Regions from separate parts of the Homo sapiens genome. Here region 1 is linked to region 2. Evidence: fine-mapped expression QTL. A gene starts in region 2. The other region holds a variant in brackets. All regions are shown on one strand. Distances are from middle to middle. Region 1 overlaps TRABD2A (TraB domain containing 2A). Region 2 holds the start of TRABD2A (TraB domain containing 2A).

What was found. PIP is the estimated chance that this variant, and not a neighbour inherited with it, causes the effect.
Region 1: its variant is fine-mapped to the expression of TRABD2A in whole blood (TOPMed, PIP above 0.99). The same link has a PIP of 0.9 or more in blood mononuclear cells.

The regions. Positions count from the first base shown.
Region 1 is chr2:84,825,007-84,830,209 of GRCh38, forward strand. The region is part of intron 5 of TRABD2A (TraB domain containing 2A); the gene reads right to left. Among named protein-coding and RNA genes, the nearest start is that of TRABD2A, 53 kb to the right of the region's middle. The variant A/G (reference allele first, on the strand shown) is at 3,072.
Region 2 is chr2:84,878,768-84,883,970 of GRCh38, forward strand. It overlaps TRABD2A (TraB domain containing 2A), which reads right to left and starts at 2,317. Exons shown (of 7, transcript NM_001277053.2): 1 at 2,165-2,317. The coding sequence starts at 2,272. RefSeq lists enhancers at 1,559-2,061, 2,062-2,562 and a silencer at 2,292-2,421.

The DNA of each region.
Region 1 (5,203 bases), 54 kb before region 2:
GTTTCTTCCAACAACAGAACTTTTGTCAAGGGTTTGGTGAAGGGGATGGGGGAGCAGAAAGAGAAGAATTCTACTAGATGTCAATCCCATTGGTCTCCTGATGTAGGTAGGTAGTGAGAGTCCTGAAACTCACATCTGCCTGAGGAAGGGGAGCAGTGGATGCGCCATGTCTAGGGCTTTCCTCGTCCAATGATGTAGGTGCCACTGACCAGCACATGTAAGAACTCAATTACTTAGCCTTGAGGAACCATCTACCTTACCAGAGTGGGTCCCAGTTCTGAGCCACGACATGGCAGAACCTGAGAAGTCAGTTAGTATTAATGGCCGTGTGTGAGGAAGGGAGGAGGTATACAAGAAGGAAAGCAAAAAAGGGAAAGACTTATATTGGGCAAAAAAGTTAAAAGAAGGGAATTCCTAAAATGGCAAAGGATTAAAAAATGCCCCTACTCTGAACCTGAGACTAAGGACCCCAGAAACATAAATTCATAGCTAGAAGGTTCCTGGAGGACAGGGCTTAATATATTATTACTGTCTCCTGAGCTCAGCGCAATGCCTGGTACATAACTGTGAAGCCACTTAAATGAACCCTTTCATTGTTACAACAAAGAAACTAGAGCCCAGAAAGGGAATGTGCCCCCATCATGGCTCTCTAGGATTCAGGTGGCCTCCTAGGGCAGGGGTCCCCAGCCCCCAAGCCATGGACTAGCACTAGTCTGTGGCCTGTTAGGAACTGGGCCACACAGCAGGATGTGAGTGGCAGGCAAGCAACCATATTACCACCTGAGCTCCACATCCTCTCAGATTAGCAGGGACATCAGATTCTCATAGGATCGCAAACCCTGTTGTGAATTGTGTGTGCCAGGGATCTCGGTTGCACACTCCTTATGAGAATCTAACTAATACCTGATGATATGAGGTGGAACAGTTTCATCCCAAAACCATCCCCCCCTCCCCGATCCATGGAAAAATTTTCTTCTACAAAATTAGTCCCTGGTGCCAAAAACGTTGAGGGCCACTGTCTTAGAGGGTTCAAGAGCAGATGATCAGGTAGCTCCATGCCCATCAAGCCCTCTGCCCATGGCCGAAACTATGTCTTGGCCTCCATATGACCCAAACAGGTCCTGGTACATGGTAGGCACTCAAGAAAAGTCTGTTGCTTTGATTTAGTGAGGAACATGGTCTCTAACTCACTAGGGCTGTGTTCTATGGTTTGAAACAGTGGATCCTCACAGTGAGACAAATCATAGCTTTGTTTCTGTTCAACTCACAACAAACAAAGACCTCACCCCAGAAACTCCAGGTAGCCAAGGCCAGGGCTTAAGAGCCAAGTTAATAGCCCTGGGTGGGGGTTGGAGAGTAGGGATCAGGAAGGAATTAGCTTTACTCTTCCTGGTTTTTATCTCCCTTATATTTGTGAGTTAAGGAGTCCTGAGGAATCATAACACCTACTTTACAATTAAGGAAACTGAAGACCAGGGGGAGGAAACTGACCTGCACAAGGTTCCAAGAAGGATTCTATGCCATCTTTTGTTTTGTTTTGTTTTGAGATGGAGTCTTGCTCTGTCCCCCAGGATGGAGTGCAGTGGCACAATCTTGGCTCACTGCAACCTCCGCCTCCCAGGTTTAAGAAATTCTCTGCCTCAGCCTCCCAAATAGCTGGGATTACAGGCACATGCCACCACGCCCAGCTAGTTTTTTTGTATTTTTAGTAGAGACGAGGTTTCACCATCTTGGCCAGGCTGGTCTTGAGCTCCTGACCCCATGATCCACCCACCTTGGCCTCCCAAAGTGCTGGGATTATAGGCGTGAGCCACCGTGCCTGGCCAATTCTTTGCCATTTTTAAGTAACATTCATTGTTGAGATTTTTTTCAGGTCATAAAGCTAATCCATTCTCATTGTAGAAAATATAGAGAGTATAAATTAGTGTCACTGTAATCTCCAGGGAGATCCTACAGACAAATGCTCACATGGGCTCAGACAGGGGTTTAAGGGTCCCTAGGTCAATAGAGGTGGCTGCTCTTCTGTCTCAAATAGAAAATCCCAGCTGCTGAACACACCCAATCCATCATAGAGCCTCTGGGCTGGATCCCATCACAGGCTCAAGATCTAGATTACCATGTTTTGACCCACCTGGATTCTCACAGTTTAGCTAAACTTCTACCCACAAAAGCTAAGCCCATGGTCATTTTGGCTACAATATAGGGCTACCCCCTTGTGCTGATAGCTTATTTGCCCCCTACCTGCATTTCACGCAGCCTCCTCACTTCATGGAAGTCTCCAAGAAAGAAACACACTGGTTGACAAGGAAAAGACCCCAGGCTTGGAGCCTTAGACAAGATAATTGACCTTTCTGAGCCTCTGCCCCTTGCATAAAATTAACCTATCCTACCTCATTGCTGTGAGGATTAAAACAGCCCAAGCACCATGTTTCACACAGTGCTGAGCACACAGTAGATCCTTACTTCAAGTGCATCCCCCTTTCTCCCAGTCTTCTGAGAATGAATGAAGCTGTATAAACCCTAGCAGGGCTGACCAGAACCTTAGAGCACCCCGCTGTGTAACCAAATGGACATCTGCCAGATCCCCAAAGATGTCCATGACCTAGCCCCTGGAAGCTGTGAACACATTACCTTACACGGTAAAAGGAACTTTGCAGGTGTATTAAGTTAAGGACCTTAAGTTGAGGAGAGTAGCCCAGGTTATCCAGGGGTGCCCAATCCAATCACACGGGCCCTTAAAAGCAGAGAACCCGTCTGTGGTCAGAGGGGGATATGACTATGGAAGAATGGTTATAGAGATGCAATATTGCTGGCTTTGAAGATGGAAGGCTCCACAAGTCAAGGAATGTGGGCAGCCTCTAGAAGCTGGGAAGAAAACAAATTATCTAGACCCTCCAGAAGGGAATGCAGCCCTGCCCACACCTTAGTTTCAGCCAGTGAGACCTGTGTCAGACTTCTGATCTCCAGAACTATACAATAATGAATCTGTGTTGTTCTAAGCTATTGAGTTTGTGATAATTTGTTATAGCAGCAATAGAAAACTAACATAGTATCCATTACCCCAGGGGGAG[A/G]AGGGAGGAACTGGCTAAGCCCTCTGCAGATTAGCCCAACAGGAACCCCATCTCTTTCTCTTCTCTGTTCTAAGAACAGCAACCTCACCTTCAGGAGCATTTCCTGTGTTTTCCAGCCTGCTGACAGGTGGAGAGTGGCAGCTGCTAGTTGCCCTCCCCACACACCAACATGCACACCCATCTCTGTCTCCCCAATACTGGCCTACCCCAAGACTAAGGGAGCTGGCAGGGCCTTAAGTAAGCTAAATCACCACTTAACAGCCCTCATGTCCCCAGCCACACCAGCCTGCCCTGGATTCAAGTTCCACATGACCAGAATCATCCCTTAAGGACTACCAGATGGCTGCCGAGGAGGGGAAGAAGGAAACAGGTATCCCTCCACTGCCCTGGTCCTCCTTGCCAGCCCCTCTTTGTGGGCATTCTCCCCAACCCACTTCCCTGGGCCCTTAGCCTCCCGGGACCCTGTCCCTTCTTCCTGAACAGGAGCTCCTTTGGAGACCTCATCCTCCCTCATGGCTTCACCTGGGACCACTGTATGCACGTTCACCCCTAAAACCTCTCAGGTCCCCCACTGGCTGAATAAATGAATGCATGTGAGCAGTACCAGCAATGATATTAACACATAATCAATCCTATTTGAGATCCCATCATGTGCCAGATGCCAGGATAGGTACTCCTGGAAATCCAATTTTGAAAATTAGATCCTTGTCCGGAAGGCTCTAGAAGAAAGAGAGAGCTCTTGCACAAACCATAGGTTCCTTGGGGTCATGCACAGGATGAACCCAGGCTGGAGCAATGGAGGAAGATGTGGCAATTGTGCTGGATCTCACAGATTCTGATAGAGAGAACTGGGGGTAGTGTGGGTAGGGAAAGGATCTCTGGCAGAGGAAACTGCACGAACAAAGACAGAGGCTAGGAAGTAAAAGGTGGGAGAAGAAAGGGTAGAAAGAAAAGGTTTGGGAGGTGGAGGGGTCTGTGCTATTTCCTGGTCCTGGTTAATAGTGTGGCCTTTCACAGTTTCTTCGTTAGTAAATGAGAAGGAACACTTCCCTTGCGGGCTGGTTTTGAGAATTAACAGAGAGCCCATATAAACCTGGCTACCACCTGATGATCCACCAATAAATGCTCTTTTTCTCCCCGGGGAAGTGAGAACACTTGTTCTCAGCCTTCACTGGGCATCGGAATCTCCTAGAGAGCTTCTAAAAAGACGGATTCCTGACCTTCCTTTCCCCAAGGGCAGGTGTCAGGGTTAGAGGCAGAATTAGGGAGCCTGGGAACAACCAGCAACACACACACACACACACACACACACACACACACACCACACACACCACACATACCACACACACTACACACACACAAAACACACGTACCACACACACCACACATACCACAATGCACACCCCACACATACACAACTCACACATCAGACATGCACCACACATACCCCACACACATACACAATACACACACCACACATACCATACACACCACACGTACCACACTGTACACACACAACACACGTACCACACACACCACAACACAACGCAAACCCCACACGTACACAACACACACATCAGACATGCAGCACACATACCCCACACACATACACACAACACACACACCAAACATGCACCACACACATGCACAGTACCCACACATGCACACACCAGCCATGTTCCACACACATCCACACTACACCACACACACCCCACATACCACACACACCCCTCACACACAGGTACCAAACAACACACATACCAGACATGCACCACACACACACCATACACATGCACACTACACACACACACATACACCCCACACATATTCCACACTAGATACACACCACACAAACCCTACACACAAACATCACACACAACACACCCCTCACACACACCACACACCAGACACACACAAACACAAACATTACATACTCCACACACATTACACCACACACACGTACACACTCCCCAGGTAGGGCCCTCTCCAGCACCCTAAGGACAGTGCGTTGAACCCCAGGCCAGTCAGCCCAGCGGGAAGAGCTGAGAAGGGACCAGAGGCCAGTGAGGGAGGAAAGACCCACAGTCCTGCAGGGCGCAGAGAACCCCTAAGGGCTGGCTCCTCCAGACCTG
Region 2 (5,203 bases):
ACTTCCACTCTAGAATCTCAAGACCCCAACCCACTGAGGAACCCAACCACAATGCCCTTACAGCATGTGGGTCAGACATACAGCATGTGTGCCGCTGATTGGCCTTCCCAATTCCGCAGGGGGTAAGACAGAGTTTGCCCACAGAATAGAACAGCAATTCTCAAAGTATGGTCCAGGGACCTGTGGGTGTCCCCAAGAGCCTTTCAGGGAGTCTATAAGGTCAAAACTGTTTTTATAAAACTAAGATATTTTCCTTTCACCCTCATTTTCTCACAAGGTACTGTAGAATTTTCTGGAGGCTACATGTGTGTGATGAGGTCACTGCTCTGATGGCTAATGGAATGTGTGCTATGTTGTGTTTTACTACTATCTCCATTAATTCACATAAAGTAAAAGTCTTTGAGGTTTTCAATACTTTTTTTTTTTTTTTTTTGGATATAGGGTCTCGCTCTTTCACCCAAGCTGGAGTGCAGTGGCACAATCACACCTCACTGGCCTCCACTCCCAGGCTCAAGGTTTCCTTCCACCTCAGTCTCTGGAGTAGCTGGGACTGCAGGCACATGTCCCCACGCTGGTAATTTTTTTTATTTTTTTGTAGAGACAAGGGTCTCGCCATGTTGGCCAGGCTGGTCTGCAACTCCTGGGCTCAAGTGATCCACCGCCTTGGCCTCCCAAAGTGCTGGGATTACAGGAGTGAGCTACCATGCCGGGCTTCTTTGATAATTTTTTGTAACGTAAAGGAGTCCTGAGACCAAAAGGTAGGACGATGGAATAAAGGACTCATAAAGACAGATTCTAAAGGAGAGAGATCTTATCCAGACTCACTCGTCATAATTACCAGTCGGTAATAGGTTTTGCAGAAGTGAAAGGCAATGTGCTTTCTTGTGAGGAGATGGACTCCTGCCTTGTCTAACAAGCATGAAGCGGCCACACCGCAACAGAGTTTGAAACCATGCCTGGTGCAGACTCCCCTCTCCAGCTGCCGCGCCTCCTGCCTTGGTAGAGGGCCGTCCGCAGCCCCGCGACGCCTTACAGAGGCGAACACCGTGCGTCTTCCCAGCCCGGAGCTCCAGGATCGGCTCTATTTGGCCGTCCTCTGCTTTGCTGCAGTTGGGATGAGGAATAAAATTGCGAATGGCCAGGGGTGGAGGCAGACCGGGGAGCTGCGCAGGTGTCATCAAAGGTGGGCCTCTAAATTCCAGCCCCCACTCCCTCAACCCACCCCCAACCCCCCCCACCCCCGCGTCGCGGGCGCACCAGAAGGATAAGCCTGGCATGGCCCTCTCCAGAGCCAGGGACGCACAGATATCAAACCCACCGGAACAAATGCGCGAAATTCAACCTATGCCGCACTCAGAAGAGAGGGACTCGAGAACCACAGAAAATTCTGAGTGTAGGAAAACTGATCAGAGAAGGAAATATTCATCTCGAAAGAGGTCCAGCCTCGGAGACGCAAGACCTGTCCGCTATAGAGCTGTGTTGACTCGGGCAGGTCACTGAGCCTCCCTTGCCTGGGTTTCCCTCACCCACAAAACGTTGATGCGAACATCTAAAGCGCCCGGCTGGACACGCAAGGCTCGGACAGTGGTCACTCCGCGAACGCACTCTGTGACCTGGAGCACACAGGTCCCCCGCTGAGTGTCAGTTTCCCAGATCGGTAAAAACAAGGGAAATGGCTTCAACTCCCTAAAGTCCCTTCTAACTCAGGCACTGAACATATGAAGGTTAAGCCAAGCAGCTTCAGGGCGCTGTTAATATTTTGATAAGAGCAGGTGAAATTAAACTCTTAAGGAAGAGAGGGAAGAAGAAACTTCAAATAAATGTGCCCAAGTTCCTGGTCCGGTACTCCCTGGCGGATCCGTCCCCCGAAAGCTCGCGAAAATGGCTGGCGAGACCCCAGAGGCTCTCTCGGACGCCCTTGGGCTGGCGGAGGGCAAAGGCCAGGGCACTGAGTCGCTTGGAGCCTGCGGGCTGCGCCCCCGCGGGAAAGGGGAACCCGAGGGCACGGAGAGGAGAGCGAGCAAGGAGCGCCGCGGTGCTAGGTGAAAGCCCAGCCGCGGAAGTCGGCTCGGGGTCCGAAAGCGCTGCTTCGCGGGGTTCGGAGGGAAACCATCCCAAGGAGGTGCAGAGAGGCCGGCTCTCCAGCACCCGACGCGCGCCTTACTTGGGGCTTGAGCTCGCAGTTGGCGGTGCCGGGCGCCCCGCGCCGCGAAGCTGCGCCCGTGGGCAGGAGGCAGAGGGTCTGCAGCAGGAACCAGCTCCAGGGACTCATCCTCCTCAAGGCGGCTCCGAGGCCCGGAACGCGGAGGGAAGGAGTAGGGCAGAGGTGGCCGCCCGCCCTGGCTAGCCGGGGCCGCGGGGCGCCTCCGGGCGGGGCTGGGGTGAGCCCGGCAGCAGCGGCCACGTGGGGCCGGGCCTCGACCTCCCTCCCCCCACCCCACCCCCGCAGGTCAGCCCCGCGCCTAGGCGGCAGCGGAGTCCCGAACCGCGTTTCTCCCGCCCAAACCCTGCCGGGGCCGCCGCCCACCTCGTGTGACCGCAAGAGGGGTAAAGTGAAGTTCCAGCGCTGTCCTAAATTCAACCTAAAATCGCATTGGTTCCTGCGTTTACGTCTGTGCTTATGCTGCCGATTGTGAGGGGAGGGTGCCTCTTGATTGAAAGAGGCAGACAAAATAAACAAATGAAAGGCTATCTATAAAGGAAAGTTCATTTAAACAAAGGAAATCTCACGGAAGTTTTGAATGTAAAAGAGAGAGGGGAATGGTCAGTGTGTGCATCCACTGAAAATCCAGGACCACAAAAGCTGGCACTCCATTAAGAGCCCTCTTAATGGATTTTTAGGAATAATATTAAGGATGTTAACACCGAACTCAGAGGATTGCCGCAAGGATTAAAAGAGGAAATTTATGAGAAACACCTTGATTGGCACACATAGCAAGCCTGCAAACTGCAGTCGCTCCCTTTCGGCTCCAAAACCCCACTGAGGATTTTTCACAGCATTGGTCCATCAGGAAGAAAAAAAAATTATGAAAGCAAGTAGCTGTGCCCCGCCTGCCGCACCTCCTACCCATGCCTGAGCGCACTTTACCACCACCTTTTAAAGTCCAGACGTCTGCGCCATTAACTTCGGAGTGGTGTTCGCAGGAGCATTTGTCGCAGTGGTCTTTAATTGCTTTAAGTCGCTGTCCATTTTGAGAATCTGATAACTGGACGATCTCCCAGGGAAAAAGAAAAGGGGGGGGGCAGATTTGCATACAATGCGGGGAGAGGTTTTCTGAAGCCCATTTCCAACTTTCCCGTAAAGAACCCCTGGCTTTGAAGAGCCAAGTCTTTCGAGATTTAACTCCACCAACATTTAGAGTTCAGATGTTTTTGTAAAATCGCTTTTTTCTAAGTTTGAGTGGGGATTTGCTTTCTGGAATTGACTGTCTCCTGTCTTCAGATGACTGCCCCGTGTCAGCCCGGCGGCAATCGTTAGTCTCCGGGCCAACCCAGGACGATGCTTTTTGGCGTTTTCAGGCACCAGCGCTGCCACCTGCTGGCAAAAACTTTCTCTTTCGGTTGTGAGGGGGAAAAGCAAAAAGCATCAAGAACGTAAGTTGCCCTGAGCTAAGATCGAACCACTGCACTCCAGCCTGGGCCACAAAGTGAGACCCTGTCTCTTATTTAAAATAAAACAAAACAAAACAAAACAAAAAACTCAAAAGGATGTAATTACCTATTATTTCATGTTATCTCTCCCACTCCAAATGAATCAATCCGTGTGGCCACAGAGAAGCCCGCCCAGCTTCTCTCTGAGCTGGGCTTCTCTCTGGCCACACAAAACATGGCTGAATTTGTTTATTTTCTCCTGTTGTTTGTCTCTCTTTTATTTCGTTGGTTTCTGCTCTTATCTTTGTTATTTCCTTCTGTTTGTTTACTTTTGGGTTTACTTTGCTTTTTTTCTGGATTCTTAAGGTGGTACCTTAAGTCATTGACTTTAAGTCTTCTTGCTTTTGTAATATAAGCATTTAAAGTTATAAATTTCCCTATAAGCACTGCTTTAGCTACATCACCCAAATTTTGAAAAACTGTATTTCATTATCTTTCATTATCTACTTTCCCTGGTGATTTTCTTCTTTGCCCGTGGATTATTTAGAAGTAGGTTGATTGATTTCCAAACTATGGAATTGTCCTAAATATTAGGTTGGTGCAAAAGTAATTGTGGTTTTTGCAATATCAACAGATTTATAATCCAATTCTGTTGTAAACAGAAAACATACTCTGTATGATTTTGATTATTTTGAATTTATTGGGACTTGTTTTATGGCTCAGCATATGGTCAGATACTGAGTATGAAATATCATATCCATATCCAAAGTACCTAGATAATTTTGTTTGATTCTGACAGTTTTTAAATGAAGTGTTTTTTTTGTTGCTGTTGTTGCTTTGTTTCGTTTTGTTTTTTCTCTTAGCCAGACCCATCATCAAGTAGGATTTATTCTGTAAGACACTCAGTGTCCGAATATTCTATAGAATCACATCTACTCTACTTACATGTTTCCACAGACATTCCTAAGTTCACTATCATCCCACAGTGCTGACCCAGACCTGGTGACAGGCTGACATGGCCTGGTCCTCACTTGCCTTATACAGACATCTGGGTTGCAGGCCTTTCTGCCTTTCCCTTCCTGGTTAGGAAGGAGATGTTAAATGTACCCATGTCCTCCTCTCTGCTTATCTGCCGAGTTTCTGTATCAAGTTTAGCTCCTTAACTTCAGCTTTGTTACTGGATCATACCTCTGGCTGCCCATTGCCAGAGCCCTGAATTGCTTCTGAACCTTCCCTGGTCCTTTCTCTTTCCCCTTTCATGTATGGTTGATATCCTTGGCAACCCTCCCATATTAGTCCATTTTGTGCTGCTATAGAAGAATACCACAGACTGGGTCATTTATAAAGAACAGAAATGTATTTCCTTACAGTTCTGGAGGCTGGAAAATCTGAGATCAAGGTGCCTAGCATCTGGCAAGGGCCTCCTTACTGCATCATCCCACTGTGGAAGGTGAGAGCACAAGAGAGTGAGAAAGAGAGAAAAATCGAGATTGAGAGCTAAAGTCATCCTCAAGCCATTCATGAGGTCATGAGGGTAAAGCCCTCCCATGATGTCCCAGCTCCCAACACTGTTGCATTAGGGATTAAGTTTCCAACATATGCTTTTGGAGGA